Linked DNA regions of Homo sapiens: all the other regions are reported to be linked to region 4. Evidence: microRNA targets listed by miRTarBase, many of them from high-throughput screens and not tested one by one. Region 4 holds a microRNA gene; each other region holds the end of a gene's coding sequence.

Region 1 (7,882 bases), not on the chromosome of region 4:
CAGTTCATCTTTGCCAAGAACTGCAGCCAGGTCTGGGCCGAGGCTCTGAGTGACTTTACTCACTTGCATGAAAAGCAAGGGAGTGAAGAGCTACCAAAGGAGGCCAAGGGAAGAAAGGACACAGAGAAGGACCAGGTGCCAGAGCCGGAGGGGCAGCTGGAGGAGCCGACACTGGAGGTGGTGGAACAAGTGAGACCAAGAAGCTGGTGGGGAGTGCAGAGGTGTGGGAGTGGGGGTCTTACTGTGTGTCCGGGCAGTGGGGGCAGCATGAGTAGTGTGGCTGTGGGTTCAGGGGATGTGCACTTGATTGTCAGCTCCACCTCCTTGGGAGATTGTGTGACAGCACAGGGGCTTCTCTCACAGGCTTCTCCCTACTCCATGGATGACAGGGACCCTCGGAAGTTCTTCATGTCAGGTGAGAGCTGGGGGGTCAGGATCAGAGGCGTGGGGAGGCCCCAGGATGCCTTGGCTCAGTGTCCCCATCCTCAGGCTTCACTGGCTATGTGCCCTGCGCCCGCTTCCTCTTCGGCTCCAGCTTTCCTGTGCTCACCAACCAGGCACTGCAGGAATTTGGGCAGAAGCACTCACCAGGCAGTGCCCAGGACCCCAAACATCTCCCCCCACTTCCCAGAACATACCCTCAGAACCTGGGTCTTTTACCTAACTATGGGGGCTACGTGCCAGGTGAGAAGAGCCCCCGGGGAGGCTTTGGGGACTGGAATGTTTGTTTGTATGGGTATGGGGTGGGTTGGGTGGTTTGTGGGGGTTGAAACTAATAGATATGGGAGGGCTCAGATCATGTGGTTCAGCTTTATTATCAGGCAGAAAAGGAAACCGAGGTAGCTACCCACAGTGGGGAATTAGGGCCAGATTTTAGAGGGCTGTTTGGAGGTCTAGCCAACTGGCTGAGAATTAAATGGCTTTGCCATGCCACTTGCTACATGTGACAGACTCTCTTGGCCACACAGGGTATAAGTTCCAGTTTGGCCACACATTTGGCCATCTCACCCATGATGCTCTGGGCCTCAGCACCTTCCAGAAGCAGCTCTTGGCTTAGGCCACTGGACATCAAGTTCCCTTCCCTTTTCATCCTATCCCAGCCATCCTTTTGGAAGGGAGAGAGGTGGGTGGGAGGGTGGGAGGGTGGGGGAACACAAAGAGAAAATGGTTTGGAGGCTGAGCACCTTTTTTATTAATAGGTATAATAAATAAATAAATAAATACATAAACAGACGCCTGGGCTCCTCCTCCCTCTTCTGATGACCAGGCACTGGCCACAGCCTATTTACAGCTGGGGGGCTTAGGGATCTGGCCCCAATACTGTTACCCATCCTCATCTCCACCTGGCCTAGGGAACCCTGTAGATGGCTTTCTGGGCCACCCGCCTCCAGGGGGACTTGCTTGTCTTCACCCATGGAAGGGTTGGCCCAGACGGGCCAGGGGAATCCTGGCAGCCCAGTGCTGTGTCCCATCCCTCTCCTGGGTGGAGGTCTGGACAAGGTCACTGGGACAGTTAAGGGGGCGTAATTAATACTGAGCACAGGGAGCAGGTGCCAGCACAGGGATACGTGGCCCCAGCTCTCAGTCTACTCTGCAGCCAAGCCAATGGCTTGGGAAGGGCTCTCGGGCTCTGAGTCTGGGGGTTATGAGGGTCCCTGAGGCCACCAGCATGCACAGGGCCTCAGTTTTGGCTGCTTCCAGGGGTTGGACTTGGAGTTGGGGTCAATGTCACGTAGGCCAGGGGCACCAGGCCAGAGTCGGGGCCACGGCTGCAGCGCAGCCAGTCTCCTCCAGCTCGCCCCAGCACTCGTAGGATGTCTCCTTTGTGGAAGCTCAGCTGTCCAGGGCCGGTGGCCAGGTGGTGGCACAGTGCCTGCACCTCACTGGGGAAACAGCACATGGAGGTCAGAGAAACCCCCTCAAAAGCCCCCCGCCCCCCTCAGCCCTTCCGTTTCCCCAGGCTTACCACGGAGGACTGGAGGGCAGGGCTGGGGAGTGTGGCTCCTGCAGGCTCTCCTTGGGCTCTGGCTCCCGGCGGGAACCCACTGTCTGCGCCACTAGTTGGAACATGGACTTGTCCAGGCTCAGCCAGTCCGAGGGGAGCCTAGGGACAGCAGCTGGACTCAGGCTCTGCCCAGGATGGGCTCTGCCCGTGCCCTGGCTTACAGCAGGCTCCCTACTCCCTCCATCCCTACCATGGGCAGGCTCTCACCTATTTGTGGGCCGGGCCTCCCGCTGGGCTTTTCGGGAGCCAAAGAGGTGTCCCCACTTGATGCCTCCAGGTGAAGGCTCTGAGGCCCCTTCCTCATTTTCTGCTGGCGAGGCAGCGGGCCCTTCCCTCTCCCGACTGCGCCTCAGCTCGGCCAGCACAGAGTCAGGGGGGCTCCCCATCCAGAAGGGCCAGCCCCTTTCCCGGCCCAGGGCCTCCTCAGAGGCAGGGCAGGCCTCAGCCCCCTCCACTACTCCCTCTCGGGGTGGTGGAGCCTGGGGAGGTCCCCCACCTCCTGCCCCTTTCTTTTTCTCGCTGCTGCTGTTGCTGCTACCACGAGGGAACCTGGAACCCTCAATGGAGCCATCGATGTAGACCTGGGAGCTCTGCATGAGCTGGTACCACCAGCCGGCCTGCCCACCTCGGGCCCACCTGGCACGCCCTGAGCCCCCGGCTGCCTCTGCCACCTCTTCTGTCTCCTCTTCTTCCTCTTCCTCTTCTCCACCTTCTGAGGCACCCACACCCTTCACCCGCTCCCCTTGGGCTGCCCTGTCCACGTCTCCAGGGCCCTCCTGGCCCCGGGCCCGGGCCAGCTGCAGCGTGGAGTGGGCAGACAGCAGCAGGTCCTGGGACACCCGCAGCAGTTCCTTGTGCTGCCGCTGCTGCTGCCCACTTTGCAGCAGCCGGTGCTGGAACAGCAAGTCGAGGCTGAAGGGCAGCAGGGCCAGGGGCTGTAGCAGCAGCAGCAGCTCTTCAAAGAGGCCGGGACACACGGTATGAGCTGCACTCAGGAAGCCCCAGGGCTGGTAGTGGGTCTGGATGATGTCTAGGGGAAAAGAGAGAGGGACTGATCCACACAGAGAACCAGAGCCTGGCCCAAGTGGGACTTTGAAAGACAGTCTGGGCAGAGCTGCTGCAGACAGCGGTGCAGGCTGTGCACTAGTCAACTTGCATGTACTAAGTATAAACGCTGCTGCCCACAGCTGTGCAGTGCCTAAACTCTCCAACCCCAGGCGGTGGCCCTGAGTTTAGAGGAGTGAGATGCAGGGATTCCTGGCCACCCTAACTCCCAGATTGCTAGAGTATCCTGCTGGCTCCAAGGTTTTTTGTTTTGTTTTTTGAGACTGAGTCTCACTCTGTTGCCCAAGCTGGAGTGCAGTGGCATGATCTCGGCTCACTGCAACCTCTGCCTCTCAGGTTCAAGCAATTCTCGTGCCTCAGCCTCCCGAGTAGCTGGGACTACAGGCATGCGCCACCACAGCCGGCTAATTTTTGAATTTTTAGTAGAGACGGGGTTTCACCATGTTGCCCAGGCTAGTCTCAAACTCTTGACCTCAGGTGACCCACGTGCCTCGGCCTCCCAAAGTGCTGGGATTACAGGCATGAGCCACCATGCCTGGCCCAAGGTTTTAACTCAAGCAGAGGCTGGGGAAGGCCTTGGGTGGAAGCCTGAGGCTCTGAGGATGAACGCTTGTGTGGTCCCCCTCCCCACCTCCAGCAATGAAAAGACAGCTCTTCCTTCCTCTTTTGTGCCTCTGAATTCTGACCCATTGAGTTTGACCTGCAGGGTTCTAGGCATTACCTTCGTGGTTATAGAGGTGATTAAACCAGAACTCCAGGGACCGGATGCTGTAGGGAGACAGGTGAAGAGAGTTGAGTCTTGTGTGAATACAGCCAGATAAGGAGACAGATCCAGGGGGTCAGGCACAGGAAGAATAGGTGAACACGCCCTTCCATGGCACGATTCATTTCACCTAATTCCAGAAAGTCAGTGGGGATGTGTGGAGGGAGATGGACATGTGATTTACAAGCCAATTGTTTCCTCCTGGAGTGGAGTCAGCCTGCAGTAGACCTAAGAAATCAAGGCAGCTACTGTGTGAAAGTACAGGCAGCTCAGGGCCAAAGGGAATGGCCTGGGCCCATACCTGAGAAAGCATGTTACTAGGATGTGGGTCCCAAGGTGGACTTAGGGTCAAGCAGGATTTGGAAGTAGTGCTGGAATGGAGAGGATCAGGGTTTACAAGGTCCAGAGAAATTAAGAAACCCAACTAATTTCCAAATAAGCCAGATTACAGATTTGTAAAAGCAGACCACGTTGGTGACCAGTGACAGAGTCATGGGCACAGTGGGGAGGCAGTGACCTACTGAGAGGCCATAGCGGGCTGAGGGGACCCTCCAGATCCACCCTTTCTGTCTGTCCAGGGCGTTGTTTCCTTGGTGCAGGCAGAGCCCGGGGGTGGGGGGCAGGGCAAGTTGTTTAGGGGATCTTGCTGCTCTGTGCACTCACTTGAGCAGGCCGAGGATGAAGGCGTTGAAGCGCATGGTATGACTGGTGAGCTCTGGGAATTGGCTGACTTTGTTGTAGAGGCCATGCAGGACCTTGGTGGATGGGCCTGGGAGGAAGCCAGGGTTGCAGGTCACATGACCAATTTCTGGAGCCCTAAATTCAGCCCTGGGTCCCCGTCTTGGCACCCAGCACCTACCTAGCTGTGTGGAAGCCTCAACCACACTCCATGGCATGTTCTTACGCTGCCCGATGATGACGTCCAGTACAAAGGCCTTGAGCCCATCCTCCAGCACGGCGCGGACGGCAGGGCACAAGTACTTCAGAACCAGGTGGCCCACATTGGGGCTCACAGAACTGTTTCCCAGCTTTGCCTGTAGGTGTGGTAGGGAAGTGCAGGAAACCCCCTCAGGCCTGACTGTGGTCCTCTCGTAGCAGGCCCTCATGGTTCCCCTCTTGCCGTCCCCATTCCTAAGTACCCAACCCTGGGCTCTAAATGCAAGACAGCAAGGGAAGGTGGTAGCGCGGGACAGGTGAGGGCTTGCAGGCAGAGCTCAGCTCTCCACATTTCCTTGCCTACCTTCACCCCGGGATCCCGGCTTGTGCCAAAATGAGCCACAATGAGGTCCACAGCGATGTTAACAGCTTTTACCAGCCCTGCAGGGAAGAATGTGATGTGACAGGTCCCTGAGCAAGTCCTTAACCAACTCAGCTGGGGCTGAAACCTCAGGTTTCCTCAGGGAAAGGGCTCCCACACTTACTCCGTCTCCACATCTGCACATGGGTCTTATCAAAACATTCAGGCCTGGCCCTTTTCTGGTTCTGCCCAGTTCTTAAGCTCTTCCTGTCTTTACTTCCCAGCCTGGAGCTACCTCAGTGATGCCACTGTCAAGCCTCTCAATGTCCTTACCTCTCAGCCCTTATTCCAATCCTGGGTCAGGCCAACTATCGGTTTTCTCCACTCTGAGAAACCGGGCCACTGACCTGAAGAAAACCCAAGTCCCTCACCCCAGTGCCAGTGCCAGACAAGGGCGGTTCTTTGACACATGGCTTGTCAGCACTCTCTGCCATACCCTCAAGTTGCCATGTGAAATCGACACCCCTCCTCTCAAGCCCTTGGTTCTGCTTCAGAGAACAGAGTTCCCTAGTTATAAACTCCTTTAACTTCCCTCTACCTCCAAAATCCATAACAATCTCATATGTACACCCCTCACTCCCCTGCCCACTTGCATCCCCTTCGCGTCCTGGAGGAAGGTGGCCGTTTCCCTTCTTGCCCGGGTTCTTTCTCCCTGAGCTCTGATTCTCCCCTTCTGCCTTTGCAAGGAACTTCAGCTCTCTCTTCACAGGCTCATCTTCAGCCCACAATTATGCTCAGTTCTCTCCATCTCCCTAAAAATGTTCTTAGTTCAGTGGTCACTTATTTGCTAAATAGTGTGGGTCTTGTCAATCTTCATCTTACTAGATGTCACCAACACTCTTACCCAAGCTGCTGGGCCCTCTAGTACCTTCACCCGCCCCCTCCAAGAGCACTGAGGCATTTTTTGATGACATGGAAGCCTCCTCATGAGACTTTGCTCACTGCAGGAAGGGACCGGAGCGTGACTCTGAAAGCCTCTGATGAATGACCCTTGCTCACTCACATGCACTCATGATACACAGCACACAGCTTCCTCCTCTGGCCCCAGAGCCTGTGTGCTCCAACACCTTCCCAGCACCTGGAGATTTGTTTGTGGTTTTCTTTTGAAAAGGAGTTTTCAGTTTTGTTGCCCAGGCTGGAGTGCAATGGTGTGATCTTGGCTCACTGCAACCTCCACCTCCTGGGTTCAAGTAATTCTCCTGCCTCAGCCTCCCGAGTAGCTGGGATTACACGCGCCCACCACAACACCCAGCTAATTTTTTTTTGTGTTTTTAGTAGAGATGGGGTTTCACCATGTTGGCCAGGCTGGCCTCGAACTCCTGACCTCATGATCCACCTGCCTTGGCCTCCCAAAGTGCTGGGATTACAGGCGTGAGCCACTGGGCCCAGCCAGCACTTAGAGGTTTCAGACTGGCTAGGTAGTAGGGCAAGTGTGAGGAGGTAGTGACAGCAGAGTCCCTGGCCTGAGCTGGGGGTTGTATGCACCTTTTTTCTGAAGCAGGTCAATGGAAATGGCCTCTGAGCTGCCATCTGGGGACAGACAAAACTCAGCTGGAGGCTTCTCCGTCAAGGAAAAGGGGTCCTGGAAGTCAGGGCAGGTCAGTGGTAACGGCTTCACTGCTTGGCCTGGAAAGAAGAGAAAAATCAATCCTGAGCAACTCTCAGTGCAGGAGTTCCAGGCCAGTTCAGTGCCTCGTACCGTCTGAGACACGTTCCTTTGGGACTGACCCCTTCTCTAGCCCTTTCCAGCCATGGCAGAGCCTGCCCCGGGTGTACTGGGGACCCTGCTCACACACCATTCAGCCGGCAGTTCAGATGGCTGGCAGCACTGAGGGAGCCAGGGAACTCAAAGATAGGGTTTCTTCGGGCCAGCCGAGCTTCTTGTGATCTTCGGTCTAGGCTCCCTGACAAACCAGGTGGCCCTAGTGGGTTCTTCCTCCTGTATTCCCGCCACTTGAGGGCTTGAGGGGATAGGTGGTTGGCTGGAAGCAGAACAGATTAGCAGAAAGACAAGAGTTGGCAGGAGACAGCGAGACAGAGTTTCACATCCACCCAGTGGGCCCATATGAAACACTAGATTATCTGTGGATATTATCTACAGATGCTGAGGGAGGGATGCAGACATCCTAACCTCTGGCCCCAGGTGAGAGTGTAAGCAACCACTCAAAGGGGAGGTGGTGGAAGTGCTTGCGTGAGGTGGCGGGTTGGGTAGGGAGATGCTGGAGCTCGTACCATTACTGGGCCTGGTGGCCATGCTGCCCTCACCACCTCCCCGGGCCAGGCTCTCTGCTCGGCTGAGGCCAGATCGCCAGGAGCCCAGAGGCGGCAAGCTTCCTGTTCCATGGAGCCGGTACTCAGTCAAGGTCAGTATCTTCTGATCCTCCTTCTGCGGCTGCTGGGAGGTGGCAGGCCGGACAGCAGAAGGACAGGAGTGGCTCCATGGGGGCAGGCTTTCTGTGGCTGTGGGCTGCTCTGGGGGAGGGGAGCACGAAGTGGAGGCAGAAGAGTCAGTGCTGGGCCCAAAGGGGCCAACACTCCGGATGGGGGAGTAGCTGCCCAGGGGCGATGGCCGAGAGGTCTCTGGCTCAGACCCAGCTTTCCTGGCACCTCTGCCAGTGGCTCGGGGAGTGGATGCCTGCGGTTCCCCTGAGGGAGCTGGGACTGAGACTTGAGCAGCAGGGGCAGCCAGTGGGGCAGGCTGCTGTGTACGGCTGCAGCCTGAGAGGCTGTAGAGCTGGGAAAGGCTGTGGAG
Region 2 (7,345 bases), not on the chromosome of region 4:
GTCACTGGCTGGAAACCAGCAGGCACGCGTGGAGGTGCAGAGGCAAGGAGTTGAAGTGTCCTCAGGGAATCTGGGTGAGCCACAGTAGGAGGTGTAGTAAGTGGGACAGGGCGGTCACCGGGACAGGGGCAATGATGGAAGACGGCGGGAGGGAAGCCAGAGGCGTGAACAGTGAGGCCCAGGGGCCAGCCGAGTGCCTGAGGGCTGCGGGTCAGAGAAGGGGGTCAGAGAGACGGAAAGGAGCATCCCCAGGAGGGGCCCTCAACACTGCCAGGCCCTGGGACAGGGTCCAGTGGAGGTCTGAGGGCCGCCGCTGGGACACTGATGTGGACACCCTGCCTACGTCCCACGGACAACTAGAACAGAGACCTCCGATAGACCACGCGGCTTTCACTCAGTGGTGTCTCCTCTTTATGCAGAGAGCATCAGTGATGTCACGTTTGGAGCAGGGGTCAGTTACATCGGGACACCACGGACTCCGTCGTCAGCCAAAGGCAAGTTCTTGGTGTCCTTCTGGGCTGATAGATGCACTGCCTTTGAGGTTCTGGGAAAGCTGAATGTGTTTGTTTGACTCCCTTTTAGAGAAAATTGAAGGCCGGAGTCAAGGAAATGACATCTTATGTTTATCACTGCCTGATAAACCGTAAGTTTAGCAGTGTTCCTTTTGAGGTGGATGTTTCTGTCAGGGTTTTTCTGAGTTCCAGAATGACTGCACATGTCCTTTCCCTAGGCCCCCACAGCCTCAGCAGTGGAATGTGCGGTCTCCCGCCAGGAATAAAGACACTCCAGCCTGCAGCAGGAGGTCCCTCCGAAAGACCCCTCTGAAAACAGCCAACTAAACAGCGCCTCCCACCAGTGTCCAGGCAGGCAGGAGCCCTTGAGGAAGCAGTCTCGTGTCCTCCGTGTGAAGGCAGCTGGATCACTTCCCGCAGTCCTTGGGCAGCGCTTTGCTGTGGAACACGAGAGCTCCTCCTCAGGGGCCTGGCACTCACCTTCTATTCTGTATGATGTATTTGGTTAAACACTGTCAAATAATAGAGATGTGCCAGATTTAGATTTTCTTACCCTAATCTGTTTAATATTGTAACTTTATTCCATTTGAAAGTGTCAAGCCCATTCAGATAAGCTATAATCTGGTCTTTAAGGAACACAACTTTAAAACTGCAGCTTTCTTTTATATAAATCAAGCCTCTGTTAACTTGAATTCCTTATAGTACATATTTTCCCATCTGTAATGACGAAATTTTGATTCTAATATTTTTTCTATTATTTATAAGTGCAAATTTTTTAAAAAAGTGTACAGCTTTCTAAAAGTAATAAAGGTTTAGCATAAATACAGCCTTCCAGTAGTCAATAGGATTTTTCTGTTTTTAGAACAGAGCTCTTATTGGTAATCATTTTAATTTTACATAAAGCATGTTTGTTTGTTAGAGGAATGAAACCAAATCTTCCCTATTAGAAAAAAGATGATTGTCTTGAAGGGCAGTTCATCTGTGCCCAGGCAGAGGCGGTGTGCTTTCCCTAACAGACATGAACAGCATCCCTTCTTGGGAAAAAATGGCTTTGCAGCCTTCCCCAGAGCAGCACTGCCGATTTGTGCAGCCCTCTGTTAAGGGCTGCTCCCATGATGGGGGAACAGCTTGAGTCTCTTCTGTTAGCACTAGTGGGTAAACTGAATGCTATTTTTGTTCAACAATATCCAGAAAGAAATGCAGTTGGTTTGTTTTTTAATCCCAGTATTACAAAAGCAAAAGTACAAAGTGATGATGTGCGTTGGTTGGTTTGGGGGATGGGATGCCACTGAGATCTGCCCACTGCCATCCCAAGTGGGAACCGCAACACAGGTGGGCTCGGTGGCGGAGAGGCGCAGCACTGCTCTTGAGCACACAGGCTGACCTCCTGCCCAGCACTGACTTCCCTGGTGGATGGGTGATTGATAGCATTTTTAGTGTGCATGCCTAACCACTGAAATGCTAGGAAGAAGAGACAAACCCAACGTAAGAGCAAATAACAAAGAATGAAGCAATGTTTGGGTTTTTTTGAAGCTTTTATAAATGAGGTTAAACAAATGCCAAATTACGGTGTGTTAGTACAAGTCTGTAGCATCTGTGTACAGCAACATCCATCCAAAGGCAGAATCACAGCCTCGTATCGGCCTCGAGTCTTGAGTCACATTCATATCTTAAAATACACGAGTATTCCTTTTCCGTCTAGTCTCAGTTATAGGCAGCTACTTCCCAGACTCTACTTTCACTTCTCTCTACTTTTTCAGACCTGGTTCCCATGGCACTAGTGTAGAAGGTTTTAGGGTATAAGAAGAGGGGGCAATAAGGCTACCCTATCACTATGACAACCAAGAAGGAGGCTGGAGCGTGAATCCCCAACGCTGAGGGTGGGGAGCCATCCCTCTCTACCAAGGTGGCAATGATGGAGGGAACTTGCATGCTAAGCATCCAGGATGCCATGCAGCAGACACCAGGGAGCACTGAGCCACTGCTGGAGCATTTCCTGCCTCTGCCAGGCGGCCTGCGGCAAAGTGTTTCACATAACTAAAAAAAGTCAACACAGTCTCATGTATGCAATTAAAAAAAAGCTGTCAAAGTATAAAAAACCCAAGACACTGGAAGCTGAAAGACAAGGTGAGTAGTGAGAGCCATTCTCCAGGCACACAGTGGAGTGCTCCTTCTCAGCAGCTCCTTGCTTTACAGCACTTCAGTCCTGAGTCCAGCACGGCAGGGCATGTGAGGCTGAGAACACCTGCTCTTGAAGAACACAGGCTTCTGAGTGATGTTGCTAATGTCCCCCCACAAATGGGAGCAGTGTCTCCGGCGGATGAAAAATTTAAAGTCAAAATTAGAAAACTGCTTTTGATTCAGGCGTTTCACTTTCCTCCCCGCCAGGCCTTTCACCTGGCTGCTCCACCTGACGTTCTTTAAAAGGCTGGACTGGCCGCCACTCCATCATGGTTTGTTTTGAAATGCGACAGAGCCTGTGGCGTCTGGGTGCTTTCTCTGTGGCAAAGAGGAACAGTGGGATCCATTTTCTTTTAAAAATGTTATTGTACTTGACAGACTTGATTTCGCAATTGCCTTTGGCCTTAGACAATCTTAACAAATAATTAAACAAACTTAAAAAAAAAAAATAGCATTGGGGGCCCTATTTTGTGAGCCATCCATAACCAAAAAGAGGTCTGTTACAGGAGCCCAAAGCTGGGACGCTACATGGAAGACACCAGTGTCCCTGCAGTGCCCACCTGAGAGCTGTGCTGGATGAAGCAAGGGCCACGTGAGTAAAGCTCACTGGGACACAGCCACTGCCAGGGCCCAAGGATGGCAGGGCCTCCTGGCAGACAGCGAGGCAACAGTGAGCTAGAGCGGGGGCGCCTGGCGCAACCCCAGGAGCTGACTGGCATCTGTGTATGTACATCTGAGGGCTTCTGGGTGGCCTCTGGGTACAGACTGTCCTAGTCATCTCAGGAAGAGGCAGTTCAAAGCTAACCTGAGAGGTTTCTTTTGAAGAGATGCAAACTGATTTCAACATTGCTTAACTGGAATTTTTAAAGGTTTCCTAAGCAACTATGGTCTGATGTGTAGACAGTATGAGTTCCCTTGTGAAAAAGGCTAAAACTTGTGTGAGAAAAGGAACATCACAGTAAACTTCCATGAGAGGATTCCTTGGGTAAAATACTCTTAATTATTGATATTTTCCAATTTAACACTAGTAGCTTGGAACTTCTACCTTAAGTTGAACTTTTTTAAAAAAATAGGTTATTTAACATTGTATGACAATATATTTACAGTTTAAATAGAAATTTTCTTTTCAATAATCAAAATACATCCTTAGCAAAAATTTAGATGTAAAATTTTATAAAATAAACAAGACCCATAGAAAAGCATATTTCAGTACCATTTCAGACTTAGCCTAAGACGAAGGTTTTCCTTAAATCCTGACACCCTGTTGGACAAGCAGGGTTCCTCAGGCAAGATCCCTCTTCCAGCAACCAATTTACCTTCCTGATTTTGGTTGTTTTTACAAAATGCTGATCCAAAAAGCTTCTCCACAATGGACACTGCAACACCGATCAGCAGAGCCTTTAAGAAGAAACTGCGGTGGTGTCTGTGGGCCGATGAAGTAAGGCTGCTGTGTAAGAAGCCTTTTCTGGGTTCCCGCCGGGATGCGCTGCTGGTGCTGTCCAGCCACCTCGCCATCTCACATGGTGCTGTCGTGGCTGCTGAACGACCAGTGGTGAACATGCTGGCTTCACAGGGCCCAGCACGGGCGTTTACGTGAGCAAACTCTTTAAGATCACCCTAATACTCATGCGGGAATCAGGCCAGAAACAGATTAGGAACCCAACTCAGTGAACGCACCCAGTTTCGCTTCCTTGTGGTTATATTTACCGGGTCCATCTTGAGGAAAATTCTTCTATTCATGTGGCTTGTTAGAGTAAGAAGAGTAGTGGTCAACTTTGGCCAAAACGAAAAGCTTCTGAATGAGTGTCTAGCTCTGTCCGAGTGCATCAGCTCTCGCTGCCTTGACAGGAGTTTCTAGCAGAGGTATGTGCACGTGCGCTCTGTGCGCTCTCAGCCACACCGCGGGTCTCAGATCACAAACGATGACTTGTGTCTGAAGTCGCCCTGCAAAGCCAACACACAGTTAGAGCCATCAAGGGGCCTGGTGGCAAGCAGGGAAAAACACGGAGTAAGTCTAACATGGGCTAAATACAGATGGAATAATCATTCTTAAAAAGTACCATCACTAGCGCTTGCAAAGCACAAATCCCATTAGTGTGTGTGTGTGTGTGTGTGTGTGTGTGTGTGTGTGTGTTACTGTGAAGGGGCTGAGGAGCTCAGGAGCTGCACAATCACTCAGAAATCTTCCCAGGAGACCCGTGTGGTTTCCAAGGGGGAATGTTGTTTTCCCTGCTGGGTACACCTAGGTTTCCAGGTTTACTAAATGATTACCTCCTCGTCAGTGCGGATGTAGTTAACTCCATCTGGTTTCCCTGGGTTCTTGTAACTATGAGGAGAAGAGAGCAGTTTAGCAACAGGGTTGTTATATTATTGCCAGCTTGAACTTCCCTTTTTTCACATAAGGCAGGCTCACCTTTCTCCATCCTGTTTATTGTTGATGAAGTAGCCACGTCTGTATGCACAGCAGATGCCCAACGTGATCAGGGCCAGTACAGCAAGGACAACCAGAACCCCCCCAATAATTCCGCCAATGTTCAGGTCATCTGAAGAAAAGGAGGTTTGGTGGAAGCCATGATACACACTATCTGTTATTTAAAAAGGCCCTGGCCCTGCTGTGCCTCCTTCCTTCACCCCAAACCCACTTGCCCCCTGCCCCCTCAGGCCTACCCCAGCTAGAAGAGAGAACACTTACAATCCTTCTAGCCTAGAACATATAGGACACCATAACTCCTAACTTCACACGTGAAAAGTACTGAGACTTCTACAGTTGAAATGCAGTCGCACTGAAAAGTGTATTAAAGTGGGCTTGGCACTGTAGGCTTAAAAATCCTCTGGCTGAATGCCTGAGATTACTTATGGAGGAAATGGTTATGAGGACAAGATTAGGAGCCAGGATCCCAAGAAGAAAAGAATCCCTAATTTCCAGGGCCTCCCTTTGTTGCAGATTGCTGCGGGGAAGAAAGGTAGCTTCAAGCCTTAAAGAATCTGTCTCAAAAAACAAACAAGTAAAGAATCCTAGGTAAGAACTAGAGCTTTGTCTCTGCCGGCTGCCTGACCTCCGATCTATAAGCCCTCTGAGAGGAAACCCCCTGGAACCCTTTTCTCATGTCTATACACTGGGCAAAGGCACTGGGTCACTTTCATATGGGGCTCTGGCAGCCGTTCCTTCAAGCAAGCGACACATGGAAAACTATGCAGGGAATTTATCAACAAGAGCCAAGTAACTTGGAAGTTTTAAAAAAATCTCCTTTATCCTAGTGTATTGGTTCTCAAAGATGAATGTACACTTAAAAATCAACTTGCAGGCCGGGCGCGGTGGCTCACGCCTGTAATCCCAGCACTTTGGGAGGCCGAGGTGGGCAGATCACGAGGTCAGAGATTCGAGACCATCCTGGCTAAGGTGGTGAAACCCCGTCTCTACTAGAAACACAAAAAATTGGCTGAGCGTGTTGGCAGGTGCCTGTAGTCCCAGCTACTCAGGAGGCTGAGGCAGGAGAAAGGTGTGAACCCGGGAGGCGGAGCTTGCAGTGAGCCGAGATTGTGCCACTGCACTCCAGCCTGGGTGACAGAGCGAGACTCCATCTCAAAAACAAAAAGTAAACTTGCAATCGTTTTTTTTTTTTTTTTTTTGAGACAGAGTCTTGCTCCGTCACCGTCACCCAGGCTGGAGTTCTGTGGTGCAATCTCGGCTCACTGCAAGCTCCGCCTCCCGGGTTCAAGGGATCCTTCTGCCTCAGCCTCCCAAGTTACTGGGACTACAGGCGCCTGCCACCACACCAGGCTAATTTTTGTATTTTTAGTAGACACAGAGTTTTGGCATGTTGGCCAGGCTGGTCTTGAACTCCTGACCTCAGGTGATCCACCCGCCTCAGCCTCCCAGAGTGCTAGGATTATAGTGTGAGCCACCACGCCTGGCATGCAATTTTGATGTTAAAATGTCAATTCCCAAGTTTCATCACTAAAAAGTCAATAGGCTAAAGTAGGTCTGGGGCAAAACTGCAGGAGAAAACAACCCTAGAGCAGAGTTTCTCAAACGTGACACATGAGAAGAATCCTTCGGAACGCTTGTCTCACACACAGACATTTCTAGCATATGTCTGAGGTGGGCTCGAATCTGTATGTGAAACAGTGGTCCCAAATGGGTATCACCAGGCAGTTTTGGAAAATGCTGCTCTGAGGAGAGCTCCAAATAGGGAGGAGGGAAGGATTCAAAAAATGCTCCTGGCTGGGCACAGTGGCTCATGCCTGTTAATCCCAGCACCTGGGGGAGGCCGAGGCAGGAGGATTGCTTGAGGCCAGGAGTTTGAGACCAGCCTGGGCAACACAGTGAGACCCCGTATCTACAAAAAATAAAATTAGCTGAGCATGGTGGTGTGTGCCTGTTGTTCCAGCTACTCAGGAGACTGAGGTGGGAGAATGGCTTGAAGGCTGGGTTTGAGGATGCAGTGACCTGTGACTGCACTCACTGCACTCCAGCCTGGGCAACAAAGCAAGACCCTGTGGTGTTTTTTGTTTTTTGTTTTTTAAGAAAAAAAAAAGCTCCCCAAGTGATTTGGACACATCCTCTCTGCCCCCACCCTCCTCTCAACGCCCCTCCATTAGGGGAACCAGAGCCCTGAGATAACATTACTCTAGGGGCTAAGCTTTGTCTG
Region 3 (7,882 bases), not on the chromosome of region 4:
TCATAAAGCTGCCTCTACCCACCCATATCATCCCTGAGGATGATAGAATCCTTGTGATCCACATTAGAAAACCCTTGGTTTTAACAGCTTTACAAAGCAAAGTTCAGGGACTTTCCTATGCTATTAGTCATCAATTCCCATTGTATTTGCCTTTATGTGTTTCTTACTTCCAGTCCCTTCATTTTAACGGTGCAGGCTAGATTCTTGTATCTTGGATCATTGAAGTAGCCCCAAATCTATTGACAGTCACCCTAGAACCTACTTTCACAAGAATAGTAGCTGCTGAAATACGTGATGGTTGTCTGAGGTCTTTAATTTGTCACCTTTGTCCTAAGGGCCTAGTTTTCCGTGTTCTCCATAATGTAGTTCTGTTCTGGCTGCTTCTCTTTTGTGACTTTGTCCCTGTTGTCCTTCCCTTTCTAAGTGAAGCTGTCTCAGTAAACCTCTACATGCTTCAAGTTCAACATTACATCCCATTTCATCCATATGCTCACTCCAGTCTAAGTAAATCTCTAGTTTGAGTTTTATTGTAACTAAAATGTATTAGCCATCCATTTGGGAAATTAGAGAGGAAAATTCCTTTTCCCTAATAATAGGTATCAAATAATAGGTATCAAAAAATAGGTATCAAAAGCTATTGCTGTCATTCAGAAAACAATGTCTAGATTAGAAATGTATCAGAGAAAAAATCAGCAGAAGAAGGGTGGAAAGAAAAGCAGAATAGTAAACTGTGAAAATGGTCTATAGGTGAATCTGGTATTCCTTCCCAGAACTGGTTTCCTGGTTAAGAATCCCTGTGCTAAACCCACAACATTTATCAAACATTTATCATGTTGAACTGCTTTTGCTTTGTCTTTTAGTCTTCTATGGATCATAAGCCCCAAAAGGGTGAGGACATTATCTACTGTTTGTTTATATGTACCAAGTATAGTGATATACACACAGTTGGTGCTGAAGAAATTCTCATTAATTCCAAGTAGAGTGCAGATTTGTACACAGGACTGTCTCCCATACAAGAGCAAGCCAACCTGATAATTCATTTCCACTTGTCTTAGTTGAGTTTTAAAGTTACCTTCCATCATCATAGAAATTATTTGATGCATCCTCAGGTTCTGATAGTTGCTGGCTTCCTTGGCTGTGAAGCCACTACATGAACAGAACTTCATGCTGAATTTTTAAATACAGTGCTTAGGGATTCACAAATACTTAAGTGAGCCCAGAATGTGAACAGATTGAACAAATGTTCAGTGTAAAGTTGTCCACAAATGAGAAAATTATTAGGAGCTAAAATGTTTAAAGGAAGGGGGGAGGGTAATTGTATGAGGGAATAAAACAGTTGTACAAATCATCAAAAAAAAAAAAACAATGTAAAATATTTTTGTAAGTGTCGAAGTATCTTTAGGTAGATTGTTGGTCAAACTTCATATGGTTGTTCTTTAGGACACTGTTTATAAGTCGGTGTTGTAAATCTGATGTGAATTTTTGTTTCTTTTTTCTTAGATTTTTGCCTTTATGACGACAGCTTGTTATGGTTGCAGTTTGGGTCTGGCTTTACGAAGATGGCGACCGTAACACTCCTTAGAAACTGGCAGTCGTATGTTAGTTTCACTTGTCTACTTTATATGTCTGATCAATTTGGATACCATTTTGTCCAGATGCAAAAACATTCCAAAAGTAATGTGTTTAGTAGAGAGAGACTCTAAGCTCAAGTTCTGGTTTATTTCATGGATGGAATGTTAATTTTATTATGATATTAAAGAAATGGCCTTTTATTTTACATCTCTCCCCTTTTTCCCTTTCCCCCTTTATTTTCCTCCTTTTCTTTCTGAAAGTTTCCTTTTATGTCCATAAAATACAAATATATTGTTCATAAAAAATTAGTATCCCTTTTGTTTGGTTGCTGAGTCACCTGAACCTTAATTTTAATTGGTAATTACAGCCCCTAAAAAAAACACATTTCAAATAGGCTTCCCACTAAACTCTATATTTTAGTGTAAACCAGGAATTGGCACACTTTTTTTAGAATGGGCCAGATGGTAAATATTTATGCTTCACGGTCCATACAGTCTCTGTCACAACTATTCAGTTCTGCTAGTATAGCGTGAAAGCAGCTATACACAATACAGAAATGAATGAGTGTGGTTATGTTCTAATAAAACTTATTTATAAAAACAAGGGGAGGCTGGGTTTAGCCTGTGGGCCATAGTTTGTCAACCACTGGTGTAAAACCTTAGTTATATATGATCTGCATTTTCTTGAACTGATCATTGAAAACTTATAAACCTAACAGAAAAGCCACATAATATTTAGTGTCATTATGCAATAATCACATTGCCTTTGTGTTAATAGTCAAATACTTACCTTTGGAGAATACTTACCTTTGGAGGAATGTATAAAATTTCTCAGGCAGAGTCCTGGATATAGGAAAAAGTAATTTATGAAGTAAACTTCAGTTGCTTAATCAAACTAATGATAGTCTAACAACTGAGCAAGATCCTCATCTGAGAGTGCTTAAAATGGGATCCCCAGAGACCATTAACCAATACTGGAACTGGTATCTAGCTACTGATGTCTTACTTTGAGTTTATTTATGCTTCAGAATACAGTTGTTTGCCCTGTGCATGAATATACCCATATTTGTGTGTGGATATGTGAAGCTTTTCCAAATAGAGCTCTCAGAAGAATTAAGTTTTTACTTCTAATTATTTTGCATTACTTTGAGTTAAATTTGAATAGAGTATTAAATATAAAGTTGTAGATTCTTATGTGTTTTTGTATTAGCCCAGACATCTGTAATGTTTTTGCACTGGTGACAGACAAAATCTGTTTTAAAATCATATCCAGCACAAAAACTATTTCTGGCTGAATAGCACAGAAAAGTATTTTAACCTACCTGTAGAGATCCTCGTCATGGAAAGGTGCCAAACTGTTTTGAATGGAAGGACAAGTAAGAGTGAGGCCACAGTTCCCACCACACGAGGGCTTTTGTATTGTTCTACTTTTTCAGCCCTTTACTTTCTGGCTGAAGCATCCCCTTGGAGTGCCATGTATAAGTTGGGCTATTAGAGTTCATGGAACATAGAACAACCATGAATGAGTGGCATGATCCGTGCTTAATGATCAAGTGTTACTTATCTAATAATCCTCTAGAAAGAACCCTGTTAGATCTTGGTTTGTGATAAAAATATAAAGACAGAAGACATGAGGAAAAACAAAAGGTTTGAGGAAATCAGGCATATGACTTTATACTTAACATCAGATCTTTTCTATAATATCCTACTACTTTGGTTTTCCTAGCTCCATACCACACACCTAAACCTGTATTATGAATTACATATTACAAAGTCATAAATGTGCCATATGGATATACAGTACATTCTAGTTGGAATCGTTTACTCTGCTAGAATTTAGGTGTGAGATTTTTTGTTTCCCAGGTATAGCAGGCTTATGTTTGGTGGCATTAAATTGGTTTCTTTAAAATGCTTTGGTGGCACTTTTGTAAACAGATTGCTTCTAGATTGTTACAAACCAAGCCTAAGACACATCTGTGAATACTTAGATTTGTAGCTTAATCACATTCTAGACTTGTGAGTTGAATGACAAAGCAGTTGAACAAAAATTATGGCATTTAAGAATTTAACATGTCTTAGCTGTAAAAATGAGAAAGTGTTGGTTGGTTTTAAAATCTGGTAACTCCATGATGAAAAGAAATTTATTTTATACGTGTTATGTCTCTAATAAAGTATTCATTTGATAATCTTTGTGGTCATCTTTTACACCATTCACTTTGAAATTCAGTTAAAGGTTTGATATAAATTTGGCAGAGCTTATAGAATTATAATGTATAAAAAGTTCTGTTTTAAACATTTCTGTGTAAAAGTCTCTCAGGAATTGTCAGTAAGTCTTTTTTCTTTGATGAAGGTGAAAGAGGCAAGTCTTTGGAAGTAACGTTGCAAAGGAAGTTTAAATGAGAATTCTGTTTTGCCGAGTGTGATGACTTATGCCAGTATTCCCAATACTTTGGGAAGCCGAGGCAGAAGGATCACTTGACACTAGGAATTCAGGACCAACCTGGGCAATATAGCAAGACCTCATCTCTACAAAATAATTTAAAAATTAGCTGGGTGCATGTGGCACGTGCCTCTAGTCCCAGCTACTTGGGAAACTGAGGTGGGAGGATTGCTTTAGCCCAGGATGTTGAGGCTCCAACCTGGGTGACAGAGTGAGACCCTGTCTCACACACACACAAAAAAAACCACTATCCATGCTAAAAAGAATTGTTTTATTTAAAAAGCATTCATTTATACCATGTTTTATATGTTTCAGGCATTTTTTTCACATATTCATTTATTTCTCATCATAACAACCCTATGAGGTGTATACTCTTATCCCATTTTAAAGGCTTGGAGACTAAAAAACCTTAAGAAACACCCAGTGCTGCCTGCCTAGCAGGTGAGAAAGCTGGGACTTAAACCCCAACAGTCTGACTCCGAAGTGCAGACTCTTAATTTCTGTTTGCCTCAGTTCACCCAGATTTTATATCTATATCCAAAAATGTGATCTTTTCTTCACCCAGAGAAGTTTTAGCAGAATGTTTAACATCATAGTTATTGTAAGTGTCATATCTTAGAACATTTTTGTCATAACCAAGGACTCATGATTTTAGCTGTAAGAATTTAAGCCAAACCTGCATGATGGAGAAAAGGTTAGGCCACTTGCCTCTAGAACGGTCCCTGAGTGCTTGTCTACCTGAGTGTTTTTCCGCTTTGTCACTTCTGGCATGAACTATGGGGGCTTTGGTCTGCTGTATTACCTTACATTGAGTCAGCCTTTTCCCAAATTATCCAGCCTTCCAGGGATGTCTGGAACTGACTTCAGAAAGGTCTTCCAGTCTGAGAGATGCCATTCGATCTTGAGCATGGACTATGAATTTCCACCTCTGAATACTCTAGAATCTGGAACTCTGGATCACTGTCATGAAGGTTCTATCATTAACAACATGCCTGAAGTTTGTTAATTGGTGAATCAGTGTCTCAGGTGTCAGCTTAATGTATTCATCAGGCAGGGGTCCAGAGTATGGGGATAGCAATGATCTTTAACCTATCTATGCCTAGTGTTCCATTATTGGAACATTAAGCTTGTGGGAGTTATTTATATCCTACTGCTCAAGGTCATCGCCAAGGTCTGATTTTTCACAAAAAACACTTGCAACCTCTGGCAAAAATTGGTTATAATATGTTTAATGTTTTGAATGTCCAGCTTTGTAACAAAAAAGGACGTTAGTTATACTTTTATTAGGCTGTGCCCCTAGCAAAAGGACAATCCTAGTTCCTCTCTCTGGAGCACTTTTTTCTCAAGTTACCTACAGAGCTGGCTTTCTCACCCTCTTTGGGTCTTTGCTTAGTCATCACCTTTACAGTGAGGTCCTACCTCAGAACCACATTTAATCTTGAATCTCACACTAGCACTCCCTGTTCTCCTTTTCTACATTTTTCTCCATAGCTCTTAGGACATACTTTATGTATAGTGTATATGCATATAGCATTAATTTATTATATTTGTCCTCTTCTCCACTAGAATGGAAGGCTTGTGTTTTGTTAATTTTAGACAGCAGGTTTTAACAGTTGTCTCCATTTTTGAGCATACATAGTTTATGCATGTGGAATATATGAACTGGTGTCCGCCTATTTTAAGTATTTGGTTGGTTCAAAAGTAATTGTGGTTTTTGCTATTGAATGTAATGGCAAAAGCTGCAATTCCTTTTGCACCAACCTATTAGTAAAAGTTTAATTTTATGTTCACAAAATAGTTAAAATATTTCCTTTGTCACTCTGTGTATTATCTTGCATATTTCTTTAAGTACACATACTCCATTTTAGAGGCCATAGGAATAGAATATTGGCTTGGAGGGCATAAAACTGGACTATCTCCTTTGCTGTTTTGATGGATGTGTCTAACACAGGCTGGCAGCCATAAGCATTGAAATTGGTTTCTCAGTAAGACGATAGGTACTCCATTTCTTCAGAATGACTACATTGACTAAATCTCAAAAATTAACTCTTGGCCAAATATGCTTTCATAGAACAAACAAATTCTCAACAAAAAAAAAATGTGATATTATGTACTTTTCCAGTGTGGGATAACTAAGTTGACCAGACTTAGTCTTGTTTTTTATTTTAAATTTAATAGTTAGTTATACTTTCAATGTGAATTAGGGAATTATAACTTGCACATCAATTGCGTGATTTCATGGATATTATTCAGTATGAGAATAAGTATTGTGAAAAAATAGTCCATTTAACATTTGTGGGACCTGAGGTGAGCCACTTAATTTATTCAAGCCTAAGTTATCATCTACCAGTGATGATGATGCAAGTCTGGGAGAGGAGGTCCTTTGGAAAGAAGAAGCCAAGATGCAGTTCAAAGTACGAGATGTTTGTTGGAGATAATGCCTATAAAATATAAAGAGGAGAGAGAGCACAAGCAGGAAAAAAAATATTTCTGCCCCTGATATAGGTTTGACTCACATGAAAGGAGAAGTAAGATTAGGTAGGAAGAGCCTCAGACTGTGCTCATTCTGAGAAAGTCTCAACCAATTTAGCAGTGAGCTCCAACACCAAGACTGCCCATAGAGGAGGAGTCTCACACTAGCTGGAAACGATGAGCCCTGATACCAACACCATGTGCAGTCATTGCCTGTGGACTGCCCAGAATGAATGGCCTCAGCTCATTGGTGTGGACACTGAAGGAAGATCCTGAGGGTATCTGCAACTGGTGCTGTCAGATAACTGCACTCCCTGTGGATGGTTATCTTTTGGAGATCTAAATAGCACACTTCATAACTGCCACTTTTCACCCCTTGTACCAAATCAATCCACTTCTCCATGCATATCCTGGGAGCTACTCCTCAGTGGGCCTCTCATCCTGAGGGTAAGACTTTTAAAAAAGAAAGGTTAGTGGGTCAAACTCAGCCACATCACTGCAGTTGGTCTTGGGGCCACAACTGGTATTCATCTCTCTCTCCAACCATCCATTCTGAATTGTCTTAGCAGCTATCACCTACCTTTGCAGGTCTGGGTGAATTATCTGGTGGTGTGACCCACACACTCATTCTTGAAGGGTCTGAAACCAAGACAACAGTAACTTTTTCAGGTGGGGGTCACTGCACTTGTCCATCCACAGTCATAATTGGACAAGGAATTACCACAAAGGTGCCCATGTGGATCACCTGAGTTTCATACATATTCCTATTTCTATTGTGTAATAACAGCCCTACATACCTTTTTATCAGGATAAATTACCCCTGCAAAAAGGGCAACTCCTTCCTGCCCGCTTGGTGCTTAAAGACTCCAAAATGCCTCAACAGCAGCCACAGCTTGTAGTTCAATAAAACCCTTGCTCTGCCCCAGATAAGAATAAGCCTCCTTTGGAGATCAGAATGGTAATCAAGCAGAACCCCAAACTGTAAGGATGGGAAGCACAAAATCCATAGTGAGTCACTGGGAGTGATGGTAAATGAGGCCACTCCTGTTTTCATCTCTCTTTTCCCAGGCCGATTAGTTTTTCCTTTTGGGAACACAATACTCTATAGAAGTTTCAAATTCAAATTCAATGTGCATGTGGCATTCAGGAAAATGGCACCCCACTGTCATGGGTATTGCCTCTGTGCTGGTGCTTCAAATGTGCTTTTAGCAGGCTATTCCAACACTATCAGGCTGGTTGATCCTGGATCATGAATTATGTGATATGGTCAATGACCACAGTCATGGGGCTATCTCCTGGTTAGATGCTAAGTTGAGTGTGATTTCATGCTTCTGGAGCAAGCACTCCATAAGCCCACTGCACATGACTGTATATATTCTCACATCGGAGCACTTTTATT
Region 4 (7,882 bases):
GAGGACTATTGTGGGTGGAGGAGCGGCAGCTGCCTGGCTAACTCCTATAACACGGCACAAATCCCCAACATCATGATGAGGTGGTGGAGAACATCTGTGGACCAGAAGGGGAGGGAGATGGCACTCAGAGACAGTTCTACAAGGGTAAAGCCAACTCAACAGAAGAGTTAACTCAGGGGTCTTCATAAAATTCCACACATTTTAGACAAAGTCGATTTTGTTCATCCCTTGGGGATTCTGTAGCTCACATTTATCAGTACAAAGAACCTGACAGATAAACCTAGGTTGTGGACCTCTGACAAATAGAAATCAGTGATGGTGCATGGTACTCTAGGGCTTTCAGTGTAGAACTTAAAAACGATGAGAATCTAGGATTGGAATTTTAAAAGTTGATTTACATGATTCTCCTGTAATGATGAGAGCAAAATCTGTCTGTGAGATTATTAATAAGTGAACTGTCTTACCCCATCTCCTCATGTAGTTGCTTCCTTCTTATCATTCAGGTGAGATCTTGGGTCTTAGCTGAAATGTTTCTTCCTCTAAGGGGCTTCCCTGGCTGCTCTCTAAATCACGTCCCCCATTGAACCCCAAATACTCTACACATATTGGCAAGGGAAGGGGCCTTGTCTGTCTTGTTCACGGCAGTAGCCACAAGACCAGTTCCCAGTACAGTCATCATAATCATGGCTGACCCTGACTGGGTGTTTGCTGTTTGCTGGGCATTGTTCAGTGCCCTTAGCTGTAATTAAATATCTATACCACAGCCATGTAGATAGGGGCAATTATTAGCCCAATTTCACAGAGGAAACTAGGGTATGGAGGAGGGGTGAGGTCATTGCCCAAGGTCACTCAGTTAATAAAAGACAGAGCCATAACAAGAATTCAAATATTTGTTGAATGAACAGATCACTGAAAATCTTGTTCTGTAAATGTTGGAATCCAAGGGAAGCCATCTGGGGATGGCTTTACTAAGACTTGGGGAAGTGAGGTCCAGTTCTGCTTCATCCGATTTACCTTCGGTTCCTCCCTCTCTTCAGAGTTCAGGGGCTGGTCAGAGGGAGACCTCTTGATCTCGCCCCCTCTGCGCCACTCAGGTGTGCTTTAAAGTATAATTTTCAATCCTTAAAAGTTTTGCCGGGGCCAAAGTTAAGCTTCTCTTAAAACACTCTCTGCCTTTTAACAGCATAGCCCCACGAAATCCCAGAAGTGTCTCTTTTCCTTACCTGAGAAGCTATAGAGACTGGAAAATCCCCTGCCTGTAGTGAGTAAAGAGAGAATGCAGAAAGTTTAAGAAAAGATCATGGAAAGGAGAAGTCTCAGAGTGATGTTTCTACAACACAAAACCTGGCTGGGGGCTGCGGCTCACACTTGTAATCCCAGCACTTTGGGAGGCCCAGGTGGGCGGGTCACTTGAGGTTGGGAGCTCGAAACCAGCTTGGGCAACATGATGAAACCCTGTCTCTACCAAAAATACAAAAATGAACCAGATGTGGTGGCACGTGCCTGTAATCCCAGCTACTCAGGAGGCTGAGTCAGGAGAATTGCTTGAAGCTGAGATCACGTCATTGCACTCCAACCTGGGCGACACGGTCTCAAAAAAATAAATATAAATAAATAAATAAAACACAAAACCTGACCACAATCCTCCCCTGATTAAACCATCAGGTGCTCCATTGCCTTTCAGACAGTTTATACTGGGGGTTTACAAAGTTTCATCTCACAACGCTTTCTCTCCAAAGCAGGGGTTGGTAAGCTTTCTGAAAAGAAAAAAGTAAATAGTACATTTTGTCAGCTTTGCAGGCCATCCCATCTCTGCTACCACAAATCCACCTGTAGTTGCAGTGCACTGCTGTAGACAATATCTACATGAACGAGTGTTGCTGTGTTCTAATAAAACTTTCTTTAAAGGCACTGAAATTTGAATTTCATATAATTTTTTTTTTTTTTTTGAGACAGAGTTTCACTCTTGTTGCCCAGGCTAGAGTGTAGTAGCGTGATCTCTGCTCACTGCAACCTCTGCCTCCCAGGTTCAAGTGATTCTCTGGCCTCAGCCTCCCAAGTACTGGGACTACAAGTGTGCACCACCACTCCCGGATAATTTTTGTATTCTAGTAGGGACAGGGCCAGGCTGGTCTCGAACTCCTGACCTCAGGTGATCTGCCCGCCTTGGCCTCCCAAAGTGCTGGAATTAGAGGCATGAGCCACCATGCCTGGCCCTGAATTTCACGTAATTTCTACATGTCACGAAATATTGTTGTTTTGATTCTTTTTTTGAACCACATAAAAACGTGAAAACTGTTCTTAATTCCCAGGCCACAAAACCAGGTGGCACCTGGGCCTTGGCCCTTGGCCATAGCTTGGTGACTGTCCTCTAAGATAGAGCCGCTACAGCTTCCCGCCTTCCCACAGGTTTTGCCCACCCTTCATGTCACACTATCCTTCAGGTCTCACTTGGAGATTGTCAGCAGAGCTCTTCTGCAAGCCCTGTACTAGGTTGAATCCCTTTGCTCCATTCAGGATGAATATCCCTTATCCAAAATGCTTGGGACCAGAAGTGTTTCAGATTTCAGATTTTTTTTTGGATTTTGGAATCTTTGCATTATACTAGTTGAGCATCCCTAACTGGAAAACCTGGAATCTGAAATCTAAAATGCTACAATGAGCATTTCCTGTGAGCATGACCTTTGAGCATCATGTGGGTGCTCAAAAAGTTTCAGATTTGGGAGCATTCGGATTTTGGATTTTCACATTAGTGATGATCAACTGTGCAACCATGGCACCAGCCCACTGTCACCCTCCTTAACAGTAATTTCTCTTTCCCTTAGTGTCTAACATCTCTCTCCTTGCTAGACAGTAAATCCCTTGAGGACAGGGCCTGCTTGGGTCACATTTATTTCTGAAATCCTAGTGCCCTGCCAGGCCAGGCAGTGCTGGATACTCAGTAAAGGTTTTTTGACTTGCACATGACATTCTCATGACATCTCATTTTTCCTTCCTTCCTTCCTTCCTTCTTTCTTTTCTTTTCTTTTTTCTTTCTCTTTCTTTCTTTCTTTCTTTCTTTCTTTCTTTCTTTCTTTTCTTTCTTTCTTTCTTTCTTTCTTTCTTTCTTTCTTTCTTTCTTTCTTTATTTCTTTCTGTCTGTCTGTCTGTCTCTCTTTCTTTCTTCTTTTTCTTTCTTTCTTTTTTTTTTTTTTGAGACGGAGTTTCGCTCTTGTTGCCCAGGCTGGAGTACAATGGCGCGATCTCAGCTCACTGCAACCTCTGCCTCCCAGATTCAAGTGATTCTCCTGCCTTAGCCTCCCGAGTAGTTGGGATTACAGGCGTGCCCCACCAAGCCCAGGTAATTTTGTATTTTTAGTAGAGGTGGGGTTTCACCATGTTGGTCAGGCTGGTCTCAAACTCCTGACCTCAAGTGATCTGCCCACCTCGGCCTCCCAAAGTGCTGGGATTACAGGCGTGAGCCACCGAGCCCGGCCCCATGACATCTCATTTTCTATTATTATTGTTCACTGCATGCTCTGTTTGGAAGCTCAGCACTTCCTGATTCTTTGGGGGTATTTGAATTTAGGGTGCAGTTAGAACTTTCAGAGTAGATAACAAACCTCAACTCCTTCGTTTGGCTTGAGCTGTTCCCCACCCCTGGCTGGAAGACTCCAGGAGCAGGTGAAGGTTGTGCCCACAGGCACGACTGGTTTGGCAATTCAGTAAAAATGCTCAAACCGGCTGTGCCTGTGGACGCAGCCCAGCGTGAACTCAACCGTTTGGAAAACAGAGGAAAACAGAGACGCTTACTCCGCAGGGAGAGCTCCACGACCAGGACTCCCCCGGTCTGGTCTCGCAGGAGGCGCTTCCGTTTATCGCAGGTCTGAAGACCCAGAGAGGCAGACAGGAGAGAAGCGGGGAAGGTGGGATGATGCGTGAGCAAAGGGGAGAAAAGAGAAAGAAAAGATATTTTAAAAAGGTCACAAATGGGGTGGAGTCACAATTCCCCAGTCAACAGAGATGAGTTACCTTTTTAAAAAATAACCCAGAAGACACACTGTTCATCCCTTCTCCAACTTGAATACAAAGAGAAAGCTTTACTTTGTTAACTCTTCAAGCCAGAGGGAATCCTTCTGGAAGAGGTCATTGAGTGTGGAAGGGATTGATCCCATTTCCTTTGATAAGGCTTCTACTTACCACTCTCACCACAATAATTAGAGAAGTGGACACTTGCAATTGTATTCTGGTTCATTTTCTTTTCTTTCTTTTTAAAAATATGGCATTGATACTTATCCTTTGATCAACTGTACAGTGTCTCTCCCCTCCTCTCCCTGGCTCTGCACTCTCTGGTTTCTTTCCCTTTTGCTGTTTGTGCTCATAAAGAACCATTTTCTGGCCAAATGAAACAACAGCAATAGAGATTATGACCTTATTTTTGTTGGTTACTATAGGCTATGTGGATAGCAGCCTCTTTGGAAACACCGAGGTCTCCAGTTGAAAGAGACCAGAAAGGAGAACAGTTTGAGATTTGGCATGTCTAAGTGTCTAAGTGGTGGTTCTCAGGCTTGAGTGAGCACCGGCATGACTGCTGGCTTGTTAAAGCACAGCCTGCCCAGGCCTTCCTCTCACGTGGTCAAATCAGCCATGATCCAGTGTCGGGAATTTCTGCAGCATCTCTCTGAAGTCACAGAGGTGAACCCTCGGGCTGTTCAGTCAAGACTAAAAACACCCACCTTTTGAGTTATTTCCACGGCCTGTCCCTGCCACCTAGACCTTGAATTTCCCTTGCCCTTTTCACTTCTTCCAAGTATTTCCAAGTCTGTTATCACTTTCATTTACCTACACTGCCCTCTGATGAGGGAAGGGCCATCATTACTTAACACACTTTGCTTAAGGATGAGAAAGCAGGTCCCAGCAGGTTAGGCGACACATGCCAGACCATGTGGGTTGTTGGAGGCAGGGCAGATAGGGCCCTGAGCATCTGCCCTCACGAGCATCTGCCCTTATACTCAGTGCCATTTCCTCCAGATGTCCTCAGCACACAGCTGCCCTGGCCTGGTTATGATCTCCCCACTCAAACTCCAGCTCCTCCAATACTGGCACCCTTTAGGTAACATTGTCCTTCTGGAGAGAGGCAGCTCACCACTGGGCAGGAGAGTTTCTCACTGTCGCAGATGAACGTCTCACAGTGTAACCACACCTTGGAGAGTTTGGGGATGTTCTGGAACCGGAAAGCATTGAATTGGAAGGTTGCCCTGTGATCTCTCCCATTCTCATGCACGAGGACGGTTTCATCCGTGGGGCAGCTGAGGCAGATGGGGAAAGAAGAGTGAACTGTCATCTCCTTGAACTCCAGCAAGAGCTGCTGAGCGATTTACACACAAGGCTCCCGAGGTGGTTATATGACCTCTAACCTTCCCAGGCATTTTGATTAGCAGCACCTCACTTGATCTTCACAACTGTGAGGTCAAGTTGATGAGCTAGGAGATGGGTATTACTGTCCTCATTCTATAGACAAGGTACGATGGGAGGGGAGTGACTTATAAGAGTCACACTTTTAGTAAGTTACACCTGTGTCCCAAAGAAAGAAAATCCCTAGGAGATAAGGCCCTCCGAGGACTGGAATATGTCCAGCCCTTGAGGGACATACAAAGTAAGGACAATGGCACCAGGTGCAGCATTGCCCCTGCTGCCACAGCTGCCTAAGCTCAAGTCACACCCAACACATTTCTGTGTGTGAACTGTGAGGTTTTGCATTGAAAATTTGTATTTATGGTATATTATTTAAATTATATATATCTACATAGTTACTTTTGTAAAAATGTGGTCACATTTTTAATATAAGCACAGAAATAATGACTGAAGGATACCGTCTAAATGTTAACACAGGCTGATACAAAGGGATAAAATTATGGGCATTTTTGGTTTTCTTCTTTGTATTTTTATGTATTCTTCCAAATTCTCTATAATGAGAATACAATATTTGTATGATATTCCAACGTCTCAAAGGTAATAATTCAGTTTAAAAAATGACACAGATGGGCATTTATTTAAGCTAGTGGTTCTCGCTTGGTCCACTTTGTGCCCCAGGGGACATTTGGCACTGTGATTGTCCAGGCTGGGGGAAGTGCTGCTGGTATCTAGTGAGTGGGCGGAGACCAGGGCTGCTGCTGAACGTCCTACAGTGCACAGCACAGCCCCCACAGTGGAGAATGGTCCCACCCCAAATGTCAAGGTGCCAACATTGAGAAACCCTAGTTTCAGCAAACATACTTTTTCATTTAACAAAGACTGATGACCTAAGTGCCGTTCCTTTAACTAGGTGTTGGAAACAGACGCAACCATTCTTGGGACTGTACAGAGAAGCCCACACTATTGTGGGGGTTTGTTATCTGCAGGTAGCACGGGGTAGCAGGGTCTGTCGCTCTGCAGGAAAAGGTCTATGTTTCGAAAGCGTCAGACCACTGAATAGCACCATAGCAGGCCCCAGATTAATGCAACTCTGAAGCATCTTTCTTCTTGTATGGTAAACTCGGCACACACGCCAGAGAGCGGTCCAGTTACCCCAGGGAACCTTCATGATGTTCTCTACCCCACCCCTTTTCCCTCAGAAACAGACAACGGGGGGCCAAGCTAAAGGCAGGCACTAAGGAAGTCAAGTGTGAGAGTGAGGGAGTGAAGTGAGGGAATGCTGTACCTTTGTATCTGGACCAGGGGTCAGAGCCGGGTCTGTGTGTGGTGGGCTCTGAACAGTGATGAAACTGTGGCATTTTCCAAGTTGTGAAACAAGACTTCTGTAGGATCATTTTGTCAATAAACACGAGATCCTCGTATGAACTCAAGATGGGAGTTCTTAAAATAGCTCTTTGCAGCCAGAGTGCCCCAGGCATGGTCAGCCAGTGGAAAATAATGTAAGCAGAGCTTTGTCAGGGGGTGGGGAGGAGGCAAAAAATAGGCAGATCTAGATGCCTTGGCACTGCTGCTTCTTGGCACCAGCTGCAGCACCCACACTTCAGTGGCAGCTGCCTCTAGATGGTGGAAGCCCACAGGAGGCTTTTATGCCCTCTCTGCATGAGCCTCCTTTCCCATGTCAGATTGCTCTTTGAGATAAGTATGCTGCTTTTGGGGCATCCATGTGTACAGGGAAATTCCTTATGATATATCTCCTGCCATCTCTCCAGGAACTTTTGCAAACTGGGTTTTTTTTTTCCAAAGGGGCCCAGTGTTGTGAGCAAAAATCATCTGGAGATTGTGGGAGTGGACTTTTCCATTCTCCCCTTTGGCACTGAACTTTGTGCATGTATCTCCAACTTTGAGGTGCCATGTCAACTAGGAAGAATGTAGAAATGGGTCGGGATGTCTTACATCTGGCTGTGTTGAAATGCAGATTCCGTGGGTTTCCCCAGAGTCCTTCTGATCTGGTAGGTTTACAGTACACCTGCATACGTAATAGGCACCCTACACAGTTTGTGTGTACACTAGAGCTTGAGGACAATTGTGCAGACCACCCAAAGCCACAGGCATCCCTTTTTCAGCCATGTTGCACATCTGCCAGATGGGAACAACGGCACTAGAACTCCCTGCAGAGAGATGATTCCAGGGGTAGCAGAAGCCTTTGCCTAGTGTGACCATTGCCTGAGAGAGGTTCCCAGTGCCTGATAGCAATTTCTGGTCCCTGCAGGTCAATACGTTATTTCAGAATTCCTGGAGTCATTTGATTGCACCATTGCTAACAGAGGCTGAATGAATTGAATCATTCAATGGCAGATGTGAGGTAAACACCCAGATTAAGCTGCCATCTCTACAGGAGGCTTTGCTGGGCTGCACAGGTGTGCCTCGGCCAGCCTGTCCTGTCCAGGCCACTCAGGAGGTAACACTGACTGAGTCTGAATCCCAGGCC

Evidence for each region. The annotated mature microRNA hsa-miR-6715a-3p reads CCAAACCAGUCGUGCCUGUGG and lies in region 4 at 3,677-3,697, opposite strand. An mRNA with a match to its seed (bases 2 to 7 or 8) in the 3' UTR can be bound and repressed. Matches are read on the target gene's strand: a 7mer-m8 pairs with bases 2 to 8, a 7mer-A1 pairs with bases 2 to 7 and ends in A, and an 8mer does both.
Region 1: the mRNA of CIMIP2B is a reported target of hsa-miR-6715a-3p. Seed matches in the 3' UTR shown: 7mer-m8 at 1,166-1,172.
Region 2: miRTarBase lists NCAPD3 as a target of hsa-miR-6715a-3p. Seed matches in the 3' UTR shown: 7mer-m8 at 1,717-1,723, 7mer-m8 at 1,779-1,785 and 7mer-m8 at 2,964-2,970.
Region 3: the mRNA of MAL2 is a reported target of hsa-miR-6715a-3p. Seed matches in the 3' UTR shown: 7mer-m8 at 3,170-3,176 and 7mer-A1 at 3,218-3,224.

The regions. Positions count from the first base shown.
Region 1 is chr9:35,555,182-35,563,063 of GRCh38, reverse strand. CIMIP2B (ciliary microtubule inner protein 2B) reads left to right here. Exons shown (of 6, transcript NM_001164310.3): 3 at 1-189; 4 at 364-415; 5 at 490-684; 6 at 969-1,233. The coding sequence ends at 1,057. It overlaps RUSC2 (RUN and SH3 domain containing 2), which reads right to left. Exons shown (of 12, transcript NM_014806.5): 3 at 7,363-7,882; 4 at 6,927-7,112; 5 at 6,616-6,756; 6 at 5,074-5,150; 7 at 4,693-4,867; 8 at 4,497-4,602; 9 at 3,792-3,838; 10 at 2,213-3,035; 11 at 1,967-2,104; 12 at 1,169-1,883. The coding sequence ends at 1,682. Among named protein-coding and RNA genes, the nearest start is that of CIMIP2B, 4.8 kb to the left of the region's middle. RefSeq lists a silencer at 1,829-2,021.
Region 2 is chr11:134,146,438-134,153,782 of GRCh38, reverse strand. NCAPD3 (non-SMC condensin II complex subunit D3) reads left to right here. Exons shown (of 35, transcript NM_015261.3): 33 at 420-494; 34 at 583-643; 35 at 731-3,670. The coding sequence ends at 839. It overlaps JAM3 (junctional adhesion molecule 3), which reads right to left. Exons shown (of 9, transcript NM_032801.5): 7 at 5,107-5,236; 8 at 4,965-5,019; 9 at 1,782-4,637. The coding sequence ends at 4,602. SNORD153 (small nucleolar RNA, C/D box 153) reads left to right here and starts at 2,420; the gene lies at 2,420-2,495.
Region 3 is chr8:119,241,917-119,249,798 of GRCh38, forward strand. MAL2 (mal, T cell differentiation protein 2) reads left to right here. Exons shown (of 4, transcript NM_052886.3): 4 at 1,501-3,757. The coding sequence ends at 1,572. It overlaps MAL2-AS1 (MAL2 antisense RNA 1), which reads right to left and starts at 4,941. Exons shown (of 6, transcript NR_149114.1): 1 at 4,814-4,941; 2 at 2,894-2,926; 3 at 2,379-2,414.
Region 4 is chr10:112,295,475-112,303,356 of GRCh38, reverse strand. It overlaps MIR6715A (microRNA 6715a), which reads right to left and starts at 3,745; the gene lies at 3,667-3,745. It overlaps TECTB (tectorin beta), which reads right to left. Exons shown (of 11, transcript NM_058222.3): 8 at 5,126-5,288; 9 at 3,793-3,865; 10 at 1,224-1,256; 11 at 1-94. The coding sequence ends at 45. It overlaps MIR6715B (microRNA 6715b), which reads left to right and starts at 3,669; the gene lies at 3,669-3,745. RefSeq lists an enhancer at 692-986.